Regions from separate parts of the Homo sapiens genome. Here region 2 is linked to region 1. The links come from fine-mapping of genetic effects on gene expression. A gene starts in region 1. The other region holds a variant in brackets. All regions are shown on one strand. Distances are between the middles of the regions.

Region 1 (9,181 bases):
GTAAGGACACCATCCAACTGTGGCAGCCCTCAGTGGCGCCCTCTTCTAGCTCCTGTGCACCCCGCAGGCCAGCCCTCACTGCTTCCCAAGGCTCTGAGAGCTCACATGCAACCTTTTTTCTCATTGGCTTAATTTCTCTTAAGACCACTTCACAAAAGCTCCATTGTAATCACTATCTGCTCAACTGCTTTCTCTTACTTACAAGTTTAGTAAACACAAACATTCTTCTGTCTAGGTCTTACTGACCTGTAGAAAGTTAACTGATGAATGGTACATTTTAAGTCAAAACATACTCTCTGAACCCCAAACATAGTAGAGCTTTTGGTACTCTTTCCAAAAAGAAGAAAATCATTACACTATTCTATATGGAAAAATTCCAATATATAAGCTGATGCAAATTTTGCCTTGCAAAAAAATCTCAATACCTGTGTTTAGATAAGTACAAATGAAACTTTAAGAAATTCCAGTATCACTGTTTCTCAAACTTGGATATCGTTCAGATCCTTTGTAAGGGGAAAAGATTCTCACAGATATCTAGAGTTAGCTTATAATTTTTTATAATGTTGCATACATATATGTGTATGTATATATGCAAACACAAAACTAAGAGCTCCTGATTTTTATAGATTTTATGCATCTATAAAACTAAAAAAATAAATTGAATACAAACAAAACTACCAAATGAGGAAATGCAAATCTACAATTTTGATTTAATATAAGGAATGATATTTTGCTGGAGCCAATATTCACATGAATATTGTAATACTGTGTGATGACTCAATTCTCCCACTACCCTTTGTTAGTGCAGCACACCACAATATAATTTGCCTATAACTTGGTGTGACCACATCATTTATTTTAAACATCATTCTCTGTTTTTTTTTCCTCACAAGTCTGTAACAATTCACTCAGTACTATTTGCAATCACAAATCCAGCAGTGAAACTGCATTCCCAGAATAATTATAAAGGGCTGATAAATTTATATAGATATTCCACTCCAATAGTAATCCCATACAGGTTAAAATGAGAGACCATTTCATCTATCATATTGGCAAATCTTTTTTTTTTTAAGATAAAATAAATGCCAGTGGGGGTGCGTGTGATGGGCACCACTGAGAGCTTCTGGTGAGAATGAAAACTGGCCTGACATTTCTGGAAGGCAGTTTGACCACGGGTATTCACAGACTTAAGAGTTTTCAAAGCCTTTGAATCAGTAATTCCACTTATAGGTTGCTAGCCTAAGGAAGGAAATAATTTTAAAATGTGGGCAAAGATAATGTGTAAGGATATTCATGGCAATGTTCTTGTTAGCAGTAAAAAATAGGAACTCCTGTATATGTCCAAAAATAGTGGAATAATGAAATACATGAAACTATATCATTAATAATTATGTAGCCATGACAAATAATATTTGTGAACAATTTTAGTGATGGTGGATAGTGCTCAAGATATAATAGTGAAAAAAAGAGGATGGATTATTAACTATATATCCTATAAATATATAGAATACACAACTAAATATTCTATGCAGTTCTATTATGTCACAAATGTAAATATACAAAGAAAAAGATCCAACGGATAAGCCAAAACTATAAGTGCCTTTTTCTGGGATGTGGGTAATTTCTGCTTTATTTTAAAATATTTCCTGAATTTTCCAAGTTTTCTACAATAAGCACACATTTTTTTTTATTATTATTAAGGCAAACAGCCCTGGAAAGGATAGCATTTGAGATTACTTCCTGCTGTGAACAGAGGTACATAAAAGGGCTGTTACTTTGGAGAGGTCTCAGAGTCAGTCTGGACCATCCTAAAATATTCTTTATTATAAGTTGAAATCTGCCTCTCTGCAACGTCCATACACAGGTCGTAGGCTTGCTTTCTTTCTACAGCTATTCAGAATAAGTCTATGAGTGTTGCAGAGATATTTCAAAAGGGTCAGTTTTTTAAAGTAATGGCAAAAACCGCAATTACTTGTGTACCAACCTAATAGCTACCTTTCCACTGCTCACCCCTATGACCCTGCTCTCCCCTACTTCTGCTAATTTCTTTTCCTCTGGATACTTTCAAAAGTTCTCTGTCACACAGGCTTTCTGGTCTCACCAGCTTGCTTATCCTTCTGTAGACAGTCTCTAGTTTAATAGCTTTACTAGAAAAATGTGATATTCAGAACCAAAGGCCGGTTTCCAGCCTTCTAAAGCACAGCTATCATCTTGCCACTCCTCTGCTCGAGTTCCTCTGGAGACTCTCACCAGAAGAGCAGAACACCCCAGCTTAGCGTGCAATGTCTTCCTGGATCTGGTCCTAGCCTTTCCAGCCTCATAGCCCACCACATCTCTAATACACACTACACCAGTGTCTTCAAACTATGGGTTGCTCTGCATCACTGAGTACTGAAATGAATTCAGTAACCAGCACTTAAAAAAAGAGAATAGAATAGAAAATACCAAGTTGCATTGTACACTCTAAGGGCAATTACTGTTTCAGCATATCTATCTATCTATCTATCTATCTATCTATCTATCTATAATGCACACTCACACATATGCGCATACTGTGTGTGTTTTTATACTAGGCCATGGCTGAAATGTATCTTTTTTTTTTTTTGAGACGGAGTCTCACTCTGTTACCCAGGCTGGAGTGCAATGGCACAATCTTGGCTCACTGCTGCAACCTCTGCCTCCTGGGTTCAAGCAATTCTCCTGCCTCAGCCTCCCGAGTAGCTGGGACCACAGGTGCATGCCACCACACCTGGCTAATTTTTGTATTTTTAGTAGAGACAGGGTTTCTCCATGTTGGTCAGGCTGGTCTTGAACTCCTGACCACCTGCCTCAGCCTCCCAAAGTGCTGGGATTGCAGGCATGAGTCACCGCACCTGGCCTGAAATGTATTTCTTACTGTGAGGGATGATTAAAAGAAGGTTGAAAGCCACTGGCCACACCACGGCTACATCAGGCCAATAACTAGTTCCCAAACTTGCTTTGTACTGCCTTTGATCCCACCCTTCCCTCAGCTAGGCATTCTCCCTGCTCTCTGCTACTGAAATCCTTCAAGGCCCTGACAAGATACCACATCCTTCCTTGAGTGTTTCACCCTTTCCCCCTGTCTGTGCGAAAATGGTGGTTCAATGTCTTTCTTTATATTACTCAAAACAGCCTGCCTTGTATTTTGTTATGTCTGTACACTGAATTCTTAGAAAATAAATACCTGGAGGACAGGGCAACACCTTCGGGTCTTCTGAAGGCCCAGAAGTCTAGTGAACCTAGCTGATGCTCAAAAATGTCTGCCCAACCGAATATTTTCTGTATCTCCTTCCAAGAGTATCTTCTGGTGTTCTTCCTCCTGTTTTCTTGACCTATATAGCCCCCAGCAGGCCTAAAATCTGTGTCCTGGGGCTAATGTTACGTACAGTGATGACTCTAGAAACCAGTCTGTTCTGAAAGCTTTCACCTTTCTTCAGGAGCGATAAGAGAAATAAGCATACGTTTTTGTTCATTTTTCAGATGTTTCCTTTATTTGAGACTATGTTTCTCCTGTATTTTTGGTGTTAAGATGTATTTTGGGGAGCAACACTGATGATATATTACAAGATAATAGTTGGTATTTTAGTATGTGTGTGCCTATTGTACTTATTTGACACAATAAATAGGCAATTCTGAGTTCATCTTTTAAAAAAAAAAAAAAGTTAAAAAAAATTTACTGGTTGCAAACTCCAAAAGGCAGGGAATCAACTTCCCTTCTGGGCTGGCTGCAAGTAAGTTCACTTTCTTAAAGGAGGAGCTTTCTCCTCTCACCTCAAGGACTGTTATTTATTTGTCTGCGCTACTCTTTCGACGTTTCCATTCTCTTGGTCCTCAAGATGTGAATCACCCATTTTTTCCGTAGGGGGGAAGACGGCGTATCTCTGGCCCTTTAAATAGGGGCGTGGTGAAGAGGCGCGGACCGCCCAGGAGGGGGAGCAGTGCGAGGAGGAAAGCGGAAGCGCTGCCCGCAGTGGTAGGTAGTGCGCGTGCGTGAGGCTAGAGCAGTGGGTGCGGTCACGTGGGCCGGCGGTCCACGGCCGGAATGGCAGCAAGCTCAGGTAACGAGTTTCCAGAGAGCGGGCCCGTGGAAGGAGACAGGATTGAGGGGCCGTATTCAGGGTAGGAGGAGAGCGCGCGACAGGTCTCTGAGCCTCGGCGTCTCCTCCCCGCGCGACAGCGGCGGGACCTCGGGGAGCGAACAGAGCAGCCCCTGACGGGCTAACCGGACCCGAGCCACGGGCCGGGCGGGGTTGATTCTCGAGTGGAGGGGCGTGTCGTACGTTGGCCCGGAACTGGGTCGGGCAATTTCCACTTACTGGTTCCAAATGAATGTGAAAATTCAAATGGGCTTAAGTAAAAAGGGATTTATTGGCTCCAAACCTGGAAGGGGCTGAGGTATCACTAAATCCAGTGACTCCGGTGATGTATTTGTGTATCTCTCCCTTTCTGCAAAGGGCCAGTAACCCCTCAGTTCCCTATCTACTTTGCGACTATAATTGCAAGCCTCATTCTGTCCTGTTACAGTCGTGCGGCAATTAGGCTGAGGGACTGGCGCGCCCGCTCCCCCGACTGTGAGCCTAGGCGGCGGGTGTCATGCCCCTCCCCACTCCCGGGCGGAACAGGTGTGTAGCCGGTCTGTCGGGCCTGGGAAACAGGTGTGGACCCCTTTAGCCTCCAGGGACTGATATCAAGGTGCCTGAGCCTGAGGCTTAGATGGGGTGTCCACCTCTTAGGATCGGTGCGCACCCTGTGAGGCTGGTTCCAGTTTGTCTCCGCGTGCAAGTTGTGCACCAGAGTGAGGGCAGCAGGGTGAAAGGTGGGCCTCTGAAGTTCGAGGCTACTCCTGTGCCTTGGCCAGTTCTTTGTGCTTGGCATCTGGGGAAGGAGGGAAACAGCTGCTCAGAGTGTCTGGGTGTACAAAATGGGGGTGCTTTACAGGAGGATAGGGTGGGAGGAGGTAGGATCGGTGAGAGGTTCCATGGCCGTGGGTTATCAGGAATAGCTAGCTGGGGAGCCTTCTTTAAATAAGCAGGCCCCCTCCACTTCTTAGATTCTTGTTAGAATGAATAGGAAGGCTTCTGGCCTCTGCACCATCCACCCTCTACCATACTCTACTTTCCCCTACTGAAAAACCCCAAAACCCAAGCAAAACAAGCATGGATGTTAGCTTGTGGTGCTAAACCTTACTCCAAATGTCTGCATTTGGGAGACAATTACATGTTAATTGTCTGTGTATGTCTATGTCTGCCTGTGTGGGTTTGAGGTATATCTAATATAAATGTGGATGGAGAATCTGCATATGTTTGTGTAAGACGTGGGTTTGCTCATGGTTAAATTTAAGCACAGAATAGGTATTGAATCCTCTGGCAATAGCTGGCCTGTTCCATAGAATATGCAATAAAGATAAATGGAAAAAAAATTCGTTGAACTACTGGGCTTTATATGGTCAAAGAGGCATTTGTGAGAAAATTCTTTCCAGAGCTCTAACAGAGTAATATGTTGATTTTTTCTTTATATTTAATATATTTGCTTCGTATCTGGACCATTGTCAGCAGATGGATGTTTTCTGTCTTCCAGAATATTGGGACATGTTGGTGATTCTTAGCTGTATCTCACTATTCCATTGACATTTCAACCAGTGTGACACAAAATGTCAGTTATGTATGTGAATGAGAAGTAAGATCTTTTGAATTTAATGAAGTATGTTTAACTTTGGATCTATTGATAGCTTTCATAGAGTTTAGATCGTATGTTCTCTTGATCCACAGCTGTAGGTGTCATCGGTACATAGTGGTAAGATCAAACTGTTGTATTCTTAACTGAATCTTGAATGAATATTTGACTTATCTTCACGCTGTATGACATTATTAAATGTGTTCTGTGTTTTAGCAAGGAAATATAGCTTTGCGTTGGATTTTTCACTGTTATGAATTTCTTAGGTTTACTGTAATAGCAATTATACTTTTTTAGTCAAAGATATTTCTGTTGCAAGTGACAGAAAATTCAAATGGGCTTAAGCTAAAAGGGATTTATTGGCTCCAAACCTGGAAGGGGCTGGGGTATCACTATATCACTAAATCCAGTGACTCCAGTGATGGAGTACTTGTGTCTCTCTCCCTTTCTGCAAAGGACCAGTAACCCCCAGTTCCCTATCTCCTCTGCAACTGTAATTGCAAGCCTCATTCTTCCTGTTACAGTCATGGGACAGTTAGGGGATATGTTCTGAGAAATGTGTGGTTAGGCAAATTTTGTCATTGTGCATGCATCATAGTGTACTTACACAAACCTAGATGGTGTAGTCTGCTACACACCTAGACTATGTGGGATGGCCTGTTGCTGCTAGGCTATAAACCAGCACAGCATGTTACTGTACTGAATACTGTAGGTGGTTGTAACACAATGGCCAAGTATTTGTATATCTAAACATAGAAAAGGTACAGTAAAAATACAGTTTAAAAGATTGAAAAATGTGAACCTGTGTGGGGCACTTACCATGGATGGAGTTTGCAGGACTGGAAGTTGCTGTGGGTGAGGCAGTGAGTAGTGAGTGAGTGTGAAGGCCTAGGACATTATTGTACACTACTGTAGACTTTTTGAACACTGTACACTTAGGCTACACTGAATTTATTAAAAATTTTTTCTTTCTCCAATAATAAATTAACCTTAGCTTACTGTAATGTAACTTTTATGTTATAAACTTTTTAATTTAAAAAAGTTTTTAACTTCTTTGTGATAAAACTTAGCTTAAAATACAAACACATTGTACAATTAGCTGTACAAAAATATTTTCTTTATATCCTTATTCTGTTAGCTTTTTTCTATTTCAAAAAATTTTAATCTTTAAAAACGAAGACGCAAACACACACATTACTCTAGGCCTACACAGAGTCAGGAAGGTCCCGGTGGAATGTCTTTAGAGGCAGTAACACATAGGGAACTGTCATCTCTTATGATAACAGTGCCTTCTGGAATACCTCCTGAAGGACCTGCCTGAAACTGTTTTACAGCTAATTTTTAAATTTTTAAATAAGTGGATGAGTACACTCTAAAGATAAAAAGTATAGGATAGCAAATACATAAACTGGCACATAGTTTATTATCAAGTATTATGTACTGCACATAATTGTATGTGCTTAGCTTTTATACTACTGGCAGTGCGGTAGGTCTGTTTACATCAGCATCACCACAGACAGATGAGTAATGCATTCATTACAACAGCTGTGACATCACTGGGCTACAGGCATTTTTCTGCTCCATTATGTGTAATGTTAGGGGACCATGGTTGTATATGTGGTCTGTCGTTGACCCAAAACGTCTTTTTGGGGCACATGACTGTATATAAATGCATAAAAGATGTGACTGCAGATGACTCCTGTGTTATGCCATCCAAGATTAAGCACCCTAGAATAAAGAGAAATTCCAGAAGTACCTTGATTGGCCACATAGGACCCAAGAATGTGATGTGCCTACTCTTCTGCTCCGCTAGCTAGGCAGATAGGGTACTTGATTGGCAGCACCACCAAAATCACATGGTTGGAATGGAGGAGAAGCAGTTGCCCTCCAGGAAAGGTGGCAGTGGTGCTGGGGTGTTTTAACCTTTGTTTTTTCCGTTGCAGTTCAGCAAGACGCTTCCAGTTACTTCCTGCTCTTAAAAAAAAAAAAAAAAAAAGAATAAATCTCTCATGACTCTATATCCTTCTTGACACCTAACCAAGAGAAATTGAGATGACAGTTAATTGCAAATTAATAAAGAAGGCCATCATCTACTCAGCCTTTACCTAAGTGGAATCCTGTCTTTTGCGCATTTAACTTACAAGAATTTACCTGCATCAGTCAGTTATGTGAAGAAGAAAAGGGAATATATTTCAGCGTACACAAGGCCCTTGTGCTTTTTAGGAGGAGTTCTTTGGAGCTGAAGTGGGTCTGAGAAGAGACATTCTCATGATAGTGGAGACAGTATTATAGAAGCTGGAAGTGATCATTTTTCTCTGTTATTTATTTCACTTATTACCTCACACACATATTGATATAAAACTGATCAATAAAGTTAGAATTTCTACATTATCTAGATATTTGTAGACTTCGTTCATATTATTGTTTTGTATATTGTGATAGGGGATTAGATTTTTCTTTTCTAGGCTGGAGCTGATTGTCTGACAATTCATAGCAGTAACTTAGCACTCACTGTATACAGGAAGGTCTTAGGCACTGTTCCTTCCCCTTACTTTTCTTTTTAACATTTTTTAATCTGTATGTACTTATGATCACTCTCCTCATTTAGACATTCACCAACAACAGAAAGAGAAACAGAGGGTTGGGCTTTTTCGTCGTGGCAGTTCTGGCACTGTGAGCTACAATTACCTAAATGTGCCTTCTTGGAAAGAAATTCCAGGGTCAAGTAAAGCAGCCCATCCCAGTATATAGTAATGTTTCTCTAAATAGGGTCTGTATCTAAATGAATAAGGTGAAAATTGAGTACCCTCAAAGTACCCCAAGAGGGAGTCATATCAGAGACTGACAAGCGGTGGGTCTCTCAGGAAGCCCCATACGGCCAGATCTTGTTTTTCCATGTTGGAACTGCATGGCGTTTGTTATTTTGAGCACAGGTGACGTGAACTGCTTGGGTGTGAGGCATGTGAGAACTGAGACATAGAACAGCAGCTGACCATCTCCTATTCTGTGCCCACTGTGAAGCAAGAAGTTATTGAGTGGAGGTATGCAGAATCATGAATCATGATTCATAGAATCATCTATATGAATCATTTCTTTCTCTCCTTCCCGTTGCTGAAGATAATAGATGAAATCCTGCAAATTGAATGGAAGTATGGTACATTTCCACTGTATTCATCTTGGCCTCTAAGCTGAATTAACGTAAAAGAACATAAAACATCTGAGATTGTGGGATTTGCATCATGTTATAAATGAGCTAAGTGATTTAAAAATATCTCTCCTAGATGCAAAGAATGGAACTTGCACAGATGGAGGCGTTTTGGAGTAGTGTAACTAACCATACTTTGTATTACGTGACCAGAACTGCTATTTGAGATTCTGGAAGCCAGTGATGCAGTCTTGCTTGGGTATTTACCTAGGGAGGGAGGGAGGGAGGGAGGAATGGGTGGATGGGTAGATGGGTGGGTTGATCAGCTGCTGTGTCATATCG
Region 2 (9,181 bases), 190 kb after region 1:
ATGACTTAATGTGATAGCTGTTAAAATGTCTTTATGTGACTTAATGATAGATGTCATGGTCTTGAGTAGATGCAAATGACTTCTAAGTGCTGATCAGGAAAATGTGATCTCTCTGCCCAAGGAAGATGAAAATAGAGTAATGGCCATTAGCTTTACTAGTGAAAAGATATTTGAAACATTACCACGAATGCAGTTTCAGTAAAAAATCTGGGATTCAGACTTAGCTGTATTCTTTATTACAACACTCTGAGCCATTCAGAGAGCAGTTATTATATAAATGTAATAAATATATTTGGGCTTATCTAGTCATTTGAAAGCCATCAATACTGAATGAAGCTGCAGAATGGCAGAGCTCACATTTCTCAATAGAAACTAATGACAGATTTGAGAATCTTTGTAATGTATACACTCACCATTACTCTGCACATTGAGGTTAACTGCTTGAATTTGGGAGGTTTTGATGTTTTTTTGTTTCAACAATGTTATCCCTTTATAGTGTGTTTCAATTTTAGCTGTTGGTAGTTGAAAACTAAACAAGTGCTATTCACCATTCATCTCCTCTATCTCTTTCATCTTATAACCTTTTGTTTGTTTGTTTTTTGTTTTGGTGTTTCATAGACCCTGCTGGAAACAACAACCAGCCTTCTAAACCAAGATCTCCATTGGTCATTGTGTAACCTGAGAGCTTCGGTCACCAGAGGACTGAATCCCAAACAAGATTACTGCTCTATATGTTTGCAGCAGTACAAGAGACGCCAAGAAATGGCTGATGAAATAATTGTCTTTAGGTAAGAAAGGGAAGGAAATGTTACATGTATGGTACATGTACATCTGTGGCATTACCAGGCAAGAATCCACATGGATACACGGGTAGTCATTCTAGCAGTGAACGTGATAGGCAAGTTCCTGCCCTCACAGACCTTACATTCTGCATTGGGGTGGAGGTTAGGGTGCCCAGGAAAGACATAAATACAGAGGAATAAGAGCTATGGAGAAAAATAAAACACAGGACAAATAGATAGAAGGATGATGAGTTCAGGACAAGTGCTGTTGAATGAGGGAAAGCATATCTGAGGACATGACCTTTGAGCAGAACGAGAGAGGGAGGAGCAAAGGTGCTGAGAGGTGTTTGGATTCTGAGTATCCTTTAAAGGTAGGGATAACTTGCTGGTGTATTAGATGTGGAGTATAAGAGAAAAATGAATCTTTGGTCTGAGCAATTGGGTAAACATGGTACCGTTGTCTAAGATGAGGAAGAACAGGTACAAGGAACTGGGGAAATCAAGAGTTTTGTCTTGCACGTGTTAGGTTTGAAATGTACTGTTAGACATCAGGTAGGGATGCCAGCTAGACAGTTATTCAAGTCAGAAATCTGGAGATGTGTTGAGACTGGAAAATTTTAATTTAGAAGTTGTCAGCATATGATATTTAAGCTACATTGCAAAGAGAGAGGAACCCTAGTGCAGAGTGAAGGTGTTGGTCTCAGGAGCAAAGACAGCTCATCTAGAATGTATGGATAGAGGTAACATGATATGGCCGTGGATCCAAACTTCCTGACTTCAAGTCTTGACTCTACTACATGCCAGCTGTGAGACCTTGGACAAGTTATTTAACCTCTTTATATCTTAGTTTCCTCATCTGTAAATAGGATAGTAGGGTTTTGTGAGGATTGAATGAGATGATTTATATAAGGCACTTGTAACAGTGCCTGGCATGAGTAAGCACTATCTGAGTGTTACATCTGCAGGAAGATTGGTAGACTTGATGGTTGGAAGGGGAAGTAGTTCTCTTCACACAAAGAGCCCATTCAGGCAAGAAATATTTATTGAGCACCTGCTGTATGCAAGCTGCTATTCAAGGGGATAGGATACAGGATGAACAAAACAAAGGATTTGCCCTCATGGAGTTTACATTGTAGTGGCAGGGATAGACCATAAGCCAACAAGTGAAATGCCAGATACTGATAACTACCATGGGGGAAAAAATGTTAAAGGAGATACAGAGTGTTTGGTGGGGGGTGCAGATATTTTATATAGGTTGGTCAGGGAAAGGCTCACTGTTAAGGTGACTTATGAACAGACAACTTAAAAATTAATTAATAGAAAAATAATAGTTACATGAATAAAAAACAAGCTATGCTATAGAGGAAAAGGAATGTTGGGAGCTACTAATTTATAGAGTAGTCCAGGAAAGCCTTCTTGTTTAAGTGACGTTTGAGGGGATCTAAAGGAAGTGGCCATGCAACGTCAGAAGAGAGTACACCAGGCAGAGGAGCCAAGTGCAGAGACCATGAGGCGGGAGAGCCTTGGCATTCTTGAGGAGTAGTGAGTGAGGAGGCTAGTGGCACCTGAGCAGCCAAGGAAGGGGACAGTGAAAGAGACTTCAGAGGAGCAGAGGCCAAATCATGTAGGAGCTGGCCCAAGTCTAACTCATTTTTATAATGAAAGTGAGACTTTTACTCTGAGATGCGAAGCCACTGGATGGTTTTGAGGACTGGGGCGGTGACATGATCTGACCTATGTCTTAAGGATTACTCTGACTGCTGTGTTAAGAAAGGACTAGAGAGATCAAGGGGGAAAGCAGATGGACCACTTAGGCTGTTGTAGTAGCCCATGTGAGAGATGGTCTAGGTAATAGTCATGAAGTAAGAAGTGGTAGGATTCTGGATATATTTAGAAGGTAGTGGTATTTTAAAGCTATGGAACCTGGAAGTAATCTCTAAAGGAGCAAAGGTAGCTACAACAACAGAGTATAGAAGAGGAAGTTTATATATATATATATATATATATATATATATATATATATATATATATATATATATATATAGCGAGAGAGAGAGAGAGAAGGGAAGAAAAAAGAAAAAGAGTATAAAGACTATAGAAAAGAAAAGGTTTGATTTCTGGAATGTCCGACATTTTAGATTAGAGAAATGAAGATAAATCAGTGTAGATGGCTGAGAATTATTCTCAGTACTCAACTTCTGGGAGGCTGATTTGGTAATTTAGTGTAATCAATAGGGAATTTCTTTATAAGAATAGCGTAAGGATTTACTACAGCAATGACATTTTTGTAAATGTTTAATCAAATCACAACCCTTGCCTTGAATTTGGTGAGCAGACCACTCATGTTGTTATCAAGCTACTTAAATAATTATGATTTTTTCCAGTTGCTTTTTTTTTTCTTTTTGAGATGGAGTCTCATTCTGTCTCCTAGGCTGGAGTGCAGTGGAGCAATCTCAGCTCACTGTAACCTCTGCCTCCCAGGTTCAAGCGATTCTCATGCCTCAGCCTCCTGAGTATCTGGGACTACAGGTGTGTGCCACCACACCTGGCTAATTTTTTGGTTTTTGGTTTTTTTTTTTGAGACAGAGTTTTGCTCTTGTTGCCCAGGCTGGAGTGCAGTGGCACGATCTTGGCTCACTGCAACCTCCGCCTCCCGGGTTGAAGCAATTCTTCTGCCTCAGCCTCCCAAGTAGCTGGGATTACAGGTACCTGCCACCACGTCCAGCTAATTTTTTGTATTTTTAGTAGAGACGGGGTTTCACGATGTTGGCCAGGCTGATCTCAAACTCCTAACCTCAGCTGATCTGCCCACCTCGGCCTCCCAAAGTGCTGGGATTACAGGCGTGAGCCACCACGCCCAGCCCCCAGTTGCCTTTTTTTCAGATTATCTAAAAATACTATCCGGATTTCATAGTTTGAGAAATGAACAGAAGTTCAACTCATCCTCTAGGTAGTTTTTAGTCAGAGAACTGTGATTTGTTCGTACTCACAACATAAGTATACAAATATATGTATGAATGTGGATTTTTAAAAAGAGAGGACAGCAGCAAGTACATTCCCTTTCTTGTTTCTTACCCTGTACAGCCATCAGTGCATTTCTACTTGTTAGAGATTTTTATTGCTTCTAAGTACACTTACAAGCTTATATTTATGGATTTTGTGATAATAAAAAGTACAAATTGGTTGCCTTCGTTTTGCAGCTGTGGCCATTTGTATCACTCATTCTGCCTACAAAACAAAGAATGCACTGTGGAATTTGAGGGCCAAACAAGATGGACATGCTACAAATGCAGTTCAAGTAACAAAGTAGGAAAACTCAGTGAAAATTCATCTGAAATTAAAAAGGGAAGGATAACCCCATCACAGGTAAGACTTGTTTTCGTGGCAAAATGGAAATGGTCTTTTCTTACCAATGTCATTTGGGCCTGGTCTCATTTCCTTCGGTTCCATAGGTCTCAACAAATTTACCTGGTGGGTATTGGGTACATGAAATGTTCTTTTCAGTCCTATTTAGTGTTCGAAGAGCCTCTCCTCTCTACTCAGTATGGAAAAACATGAATTTGAGAGCAACAGATGACATTTTCTGCCTTTAAACGGCTTAAGATCCAGTTGGACAG[A/G]TGAGGTGTACACACATGAGCCTGCTTTTAAGACCTTTTGATAGAGTAACAGCTTAGCAAGTACAGCTGAGTACTTGCAGGTACCAATGAGTACCTATATGATAAGAGTGCAGAATTATGACTTTTAAGTAGGGCTGATGATGGACAAGGTGCATACACATATGCTCTTTCACTGCCTTTGGAGTCTGACTACTGGACTAGATGATAATTTTATGTATTTTACAGCCTTTTTTTAAAGCAGACAGTGGAGCAGAGTTTGAACTCTACCGCTTGATAGTTTTCAGGAGAGCAGAGCTTGACAACATGAGGGGTTCAATGTGGAGAAGTTACTGGGACTGGGACTTGATCATTGTGCTCTACTCGGCTATACTTCCTCTTTGAGGTAGTATCATATTTTTGGCTTCCTGTTCCTTCCTCTGTGCTACCCTATCCTATAGTTGGCCTTCACATTCACATCACATAGTGAAAAGTTGGGCTTGTTACTTTTCTCTTTTCGTTTCTTTTTTTTTTTTTTGAGATGCAGTCTCGCTCTGTTGCCCAGGCTGGAGTGCAGTGGTGCGATCTCAGCTCACTGCAAGCTCCGTCTCCTGGGTTCACGCCATTCTGCCTCAGCCTCCCGAGTAGCTGGGACTATAGGTGCATGCCACCATGCCCTGCTAATTTTTTGTATTTTTAGTAGAGTTGAGGTTTCGTCGTGTTAGCCAGGATGGTCTCGATCTCCTGACCTCGTGATCTGCCCGCCTCGGCCTCCCAAAGTGCTGGGATTACAGGCGTGAGCCACCGCACCCGGCCTCTCTTTTTGTTTCATCAGCCATCAGCATTGTATTAGAAGCAGAGCCTGGGAAAACCTCCTGACTAACTTCTCTCCAGATAACAATGTAGAACTTCTACTCTCCAGTGGTAGCCTTTCCAATTATACCTTCCCCAAGTTTGTATTGAACAGTGTGATAGGCACTGTGCCAGGTGCCTGGGGATACAATGGTAGACAAGGCAAACATGGTCTTGTCTTTCAGAGTATACAGTCAACAAACTTATAAAAGGATTTTTAACAGAGTACTCTCAAGTTTTTTCTGACTCCAATTCAGTTCAGTTCTGATACTAGCTAGAGTTAGAGACTCCATGGTTTAAGGGTTCAGTCCCACACGAACAGTCCTCACTTTAGATGCCAGTCACAAACAAAGTACTCAGGCTACCTACTTTTGTCTGACTTGGCTGCAAATTCAGTGGTCCCCATGACCCCCTCTGAGGTTCCATAATTCACTAGGATGATTCACAGAACTCAGGAAACACTTTATTTACATTTACCAATTTATTATAAAGGATGCGACTGAGGAAGAGCCAAATGGAAGAGGTGCATAGGGCAAGGTTGGGGAGGGGGATGAGGAGTGGTAGAGATTCCATGCCCTTTCTGGGCCTACCACCTTCCTAGCACATCAATGTCTACACCAACCCATAAGCTCCTCAACCCCACCATTTACAGGTTTTTTTTGGAGGTTTCGTTATGTAGTCATGCCTGAAAATTATTGGTCATTTATGATTGAGCTCAATCTCCAGCCCCTCTCCCCTCTGCACAGGTTGGGAGATGGGGCTGAAAGTTCCAAACCTCTAACCATGGCTTGGTCTTTCTGGCACCTAGCCCTCATGCTGAAGCTATCCAGGGGTCTCCAGCCAGCAGTCATCTTATTCTCATGCAAAAGACACTCTCATCACTCAGGAGATTCCAAGGGTTTTAGGAGCTGTGTGCCAGGAACCTAAGACAAAGGCCAAATATATGTATTTTTATTATACCACAAGTACTTACAGATGAACTATGCTGTAAGTACAGATAATGAGTAGATATAAAATAGACATGAGGGATCATGGAAGGCCTGCTAGAAGTGCCCTGTTAGCTTCCCTTGAAGGGAAAAGAAAAGGAGTAAGCTAGACGAGTTTAAGTGCAACAAACCCAGAACTAGAAGGTAAGTAGAATGAAATTAAGAGGGTCAGAAAGAGAGTGAAATGAGGTGAGGTTCATTAGGCAAGCAAGGACCAAGTTAAGTACTCATGTGTGCCAATACTTATGGCATTATATTTTTTCATTGGTAAGTGTAATGTTAACTGTAGGCTTTTAGTCTGTAACCTTTATATCATGTTTAGGGAATTCCTTTTTATTCCAAGTTTTCTTGAGAAATTTTTCATGAATTGGTGTAAAATTTTGAAAGCCATTTACACTACATTGGTTGCCCTCTTCCTATGTTCCCCACACCTCTTGCAGTGAAGAAAGGTAATCTGTTCACTGAATTTCTTCCTACCTTCTCGAGCATCAAGAAAGGTTCGGAAACCATTTAATTTTATTTTTAAATTTTTTATTTCCATAGTTTTTGAGGAACAGGTGGTTTTTGATTACTTGGAAAAGTTATTTAGTGGTGATTTCTGAGATTTTGGTGCACCCATCACCCAAGCAGTGTACCCTATGCCCAGTGTGTACTCTTTTATCCCTTACTTTGCTCCAGTCCTTCCCCCCTCCCTGAGTCCCCAAAGTCCATTATTTCATTCTTATGCTTTTGCATTCCATAGTTAAGCTCCCACTGATAAATGAGAACATAAGATGCTTGGTTTTCCATTCCTGAGTTACTTCACTTAGAATAATGGTCTCCATCTCCATCCAGATTGTGCAAATGCCATTATTTTGTTTCTTTTTATGGCTGAGTAGTATTCCATGGTGTATGTATACCACATTTCTTTATGCACTCCTTGGTTGGTGGACATTTAGGTTGGTTCCACATCTTGCAGTTGCAAATTGTGCTGCTATAAACATGCATGTACAAGTGTCTTTTTCATATAATGACTTATTTTCCTTTGGGTAGATACCAAGTAATGGAATTGCTGCATCCAATGGTAGTTCTACTTTTAGTTCTTTAAGGAACCTCCATACTGTTTTCCATAATAGTTGTACTAGTTTACATTCCCACTAGCAGTGTAAAAGTGTTGCCTTTCTGCCACATCCATGCCAACATCTAATATTTTTTTATTTTTATTTTTATTTTTATTTTTATTTTTTCTCATTTTTTTTTTTTTTTAATTGATCATTCTTGGGTGTTTCTCGCAGAGGGGGATTTGGCAGGGTCATAGGACAATAGTGGAGGGAAGGTCAGCAGATAAACAAGTGAACAAAGGTCTCTGGTTTTCCTAGGCAGAGGACCCTGCGGCCTTCCGCAGTGTTTGTGTCCCTGGGTACTTGAGATTAGGGATTGGTGATGACTCTTAACGAGCATGCTGCCTTCAAGCATCTGTTTAACAAAGCACATCTTGCACCGCCCTTAATCCATTTAACCCTGAGTGGACACAGCACATGTTTCAGAGAGCACAGGGTTGGGGGTAAGGTCATAGATCAACAGGATCCCAAGGCAGAAGAATTTTTCTTAGTACAGAACAAAATGAAAAGTCTCCCATGTCTACTTCTTTCTACACAGACACAGCAACCATCCGATTTCTCAATCTTTTCCCCACCTTTCCCCCTTTTCTATTCCACAAAACCGCCATTGTCATCATGGCCCGTTCTCAATGAGCTGTTGGGTACACCTCCCAGACGGTGTGGTGGCCGGGCAGAGTGGCTCCTCACTTCCCAGACGGGGTGGCTGCTGGGCGGAGGGGCTCCTCACTTCTCAGACGGGGCGGCTGCCAGGCGGAGGGGCTCCTCACTTCTCAGACGGGGCGGCTGCCGGGCGGAGGGTCTCCTCACTTCTCAGACGGGGCGGCCGGGCAGAGACGCTCCTCACCTCCCAGATGGGGTCGCGGCCAGGCAGAGGCGCTCCTCACCTCCCAGACGGGGTGGCGGGGCAGAGGCGCTCCCCACATCTCAGACGATGGGCGGCCGGGCAGAGACGCTCCTCACTTCCTAGATGGGATGGCGGCCGGGCAGAGACGCTCCTCACTTTCCAGACTGGGCAGCCAGGCAGAGATGCTCCCCACCTCCCAGATGGGGTGGCGGCCAGGCAGAGGCTGCAATCTCGGCACCCCGGGAGGCCAAGGCAGGCGGCCGGGAGGTGGAGGCTGCAGCGAGCCGAGACCACGCCACTGCACTCCAGCCTGGGCACCATTGAGCAGTGAGTGAACGAGACTCCGTCTGCAATCCCGGCACCCCGGGAGGCCGAGGCTGGCGGATCACTCGTGGTTAGGAGCTGGAGACCAGCCCGGCCAACACAGCAAAACCCCGTCTCCACCAAAAAAATACGAAAACCAGTCAGGCGTGGCGGCGCGCGCCCGCAATCGCAGGCACTCGGCAGGCTGAGGCAGGAGAACCAGGCAGGGAGGCTGCAGCGAGCCGAGATGGCAGCAGCACAGTCCAGCCTCGGCTCGGCCTCAGAGGGAGACCGTGGAAAGAGAGGGAGAGGGAGACCGTGGGGAGAGGGAGACCGCGGGGAGAGGGAGAGGGAGAGCTCTTTTTTATTTTTTAATTAGGGCCATTCTTGCAGGAGTAAAGTGGTGTCTTATTGCGGTTTCAATTTGCATTTCTCTGATAGTTTAGTGATGTTGAGCATTTTTTCATACATTTGGCCGTTTGTATGTCTTCTTTTGAGAATTGTCTATTTGCATCCTTTGCCCACTTTTTGATGGGGTTGTTTTTTTCTTGCTGATTTGTTTGAGTTCCTTGTAGATTCTGGTTGTTAGTCCTTTGTTAGATCCATAATTTGTGAATATTTTCTCCCACTCTATGGGCTGTCTGTTTACTCTGCTGATTATTTCTTTTGCTGTGCAGAACCTTTTTAGTTTAATTAGGTTCCATTTATTTATTTGGTTTTT

The links. PIP is the estimated chance that this variant, and not a neighbour inherited with it, causes the effect.
Region 2: its variant is fine-mapped to the expression of VPS8 in blood mononuclear cells (TOPMed, PIP 0.96).

Annotation. Positions count from the first base shown.
Region 1 is chr3:184,808,147-184,817,327 of GRCh38, forward strand. It overlaps VPS8 (VPS8 subunit of CORVET complex), which reads left to right and starts at 4,020. Exons shown (of 48, transcript NM_001009921.3): 1 at 4,020-4,079. RefSeq lists enhancers at 3,838-3,887, 3,948-4,147 and silencers at 6,181-6,270, 6,281-6,330.
Region 2 is chr3:184,995,714-185,004,894 of GRCh38, forward strand. VPS8 (VPS8 subunit of CORVET complex) reads left to right here. Exons shown (of 48, transcript NM_001009921.3): 44 at 619-788; 45 at 3,983-4,148. Among named protein-coding and RNA genes, the nearest start is that of C3orf70, 150 kb to the right of the region's middle. The variant A/G (reference allele first, on the strand shown) is at 4,400.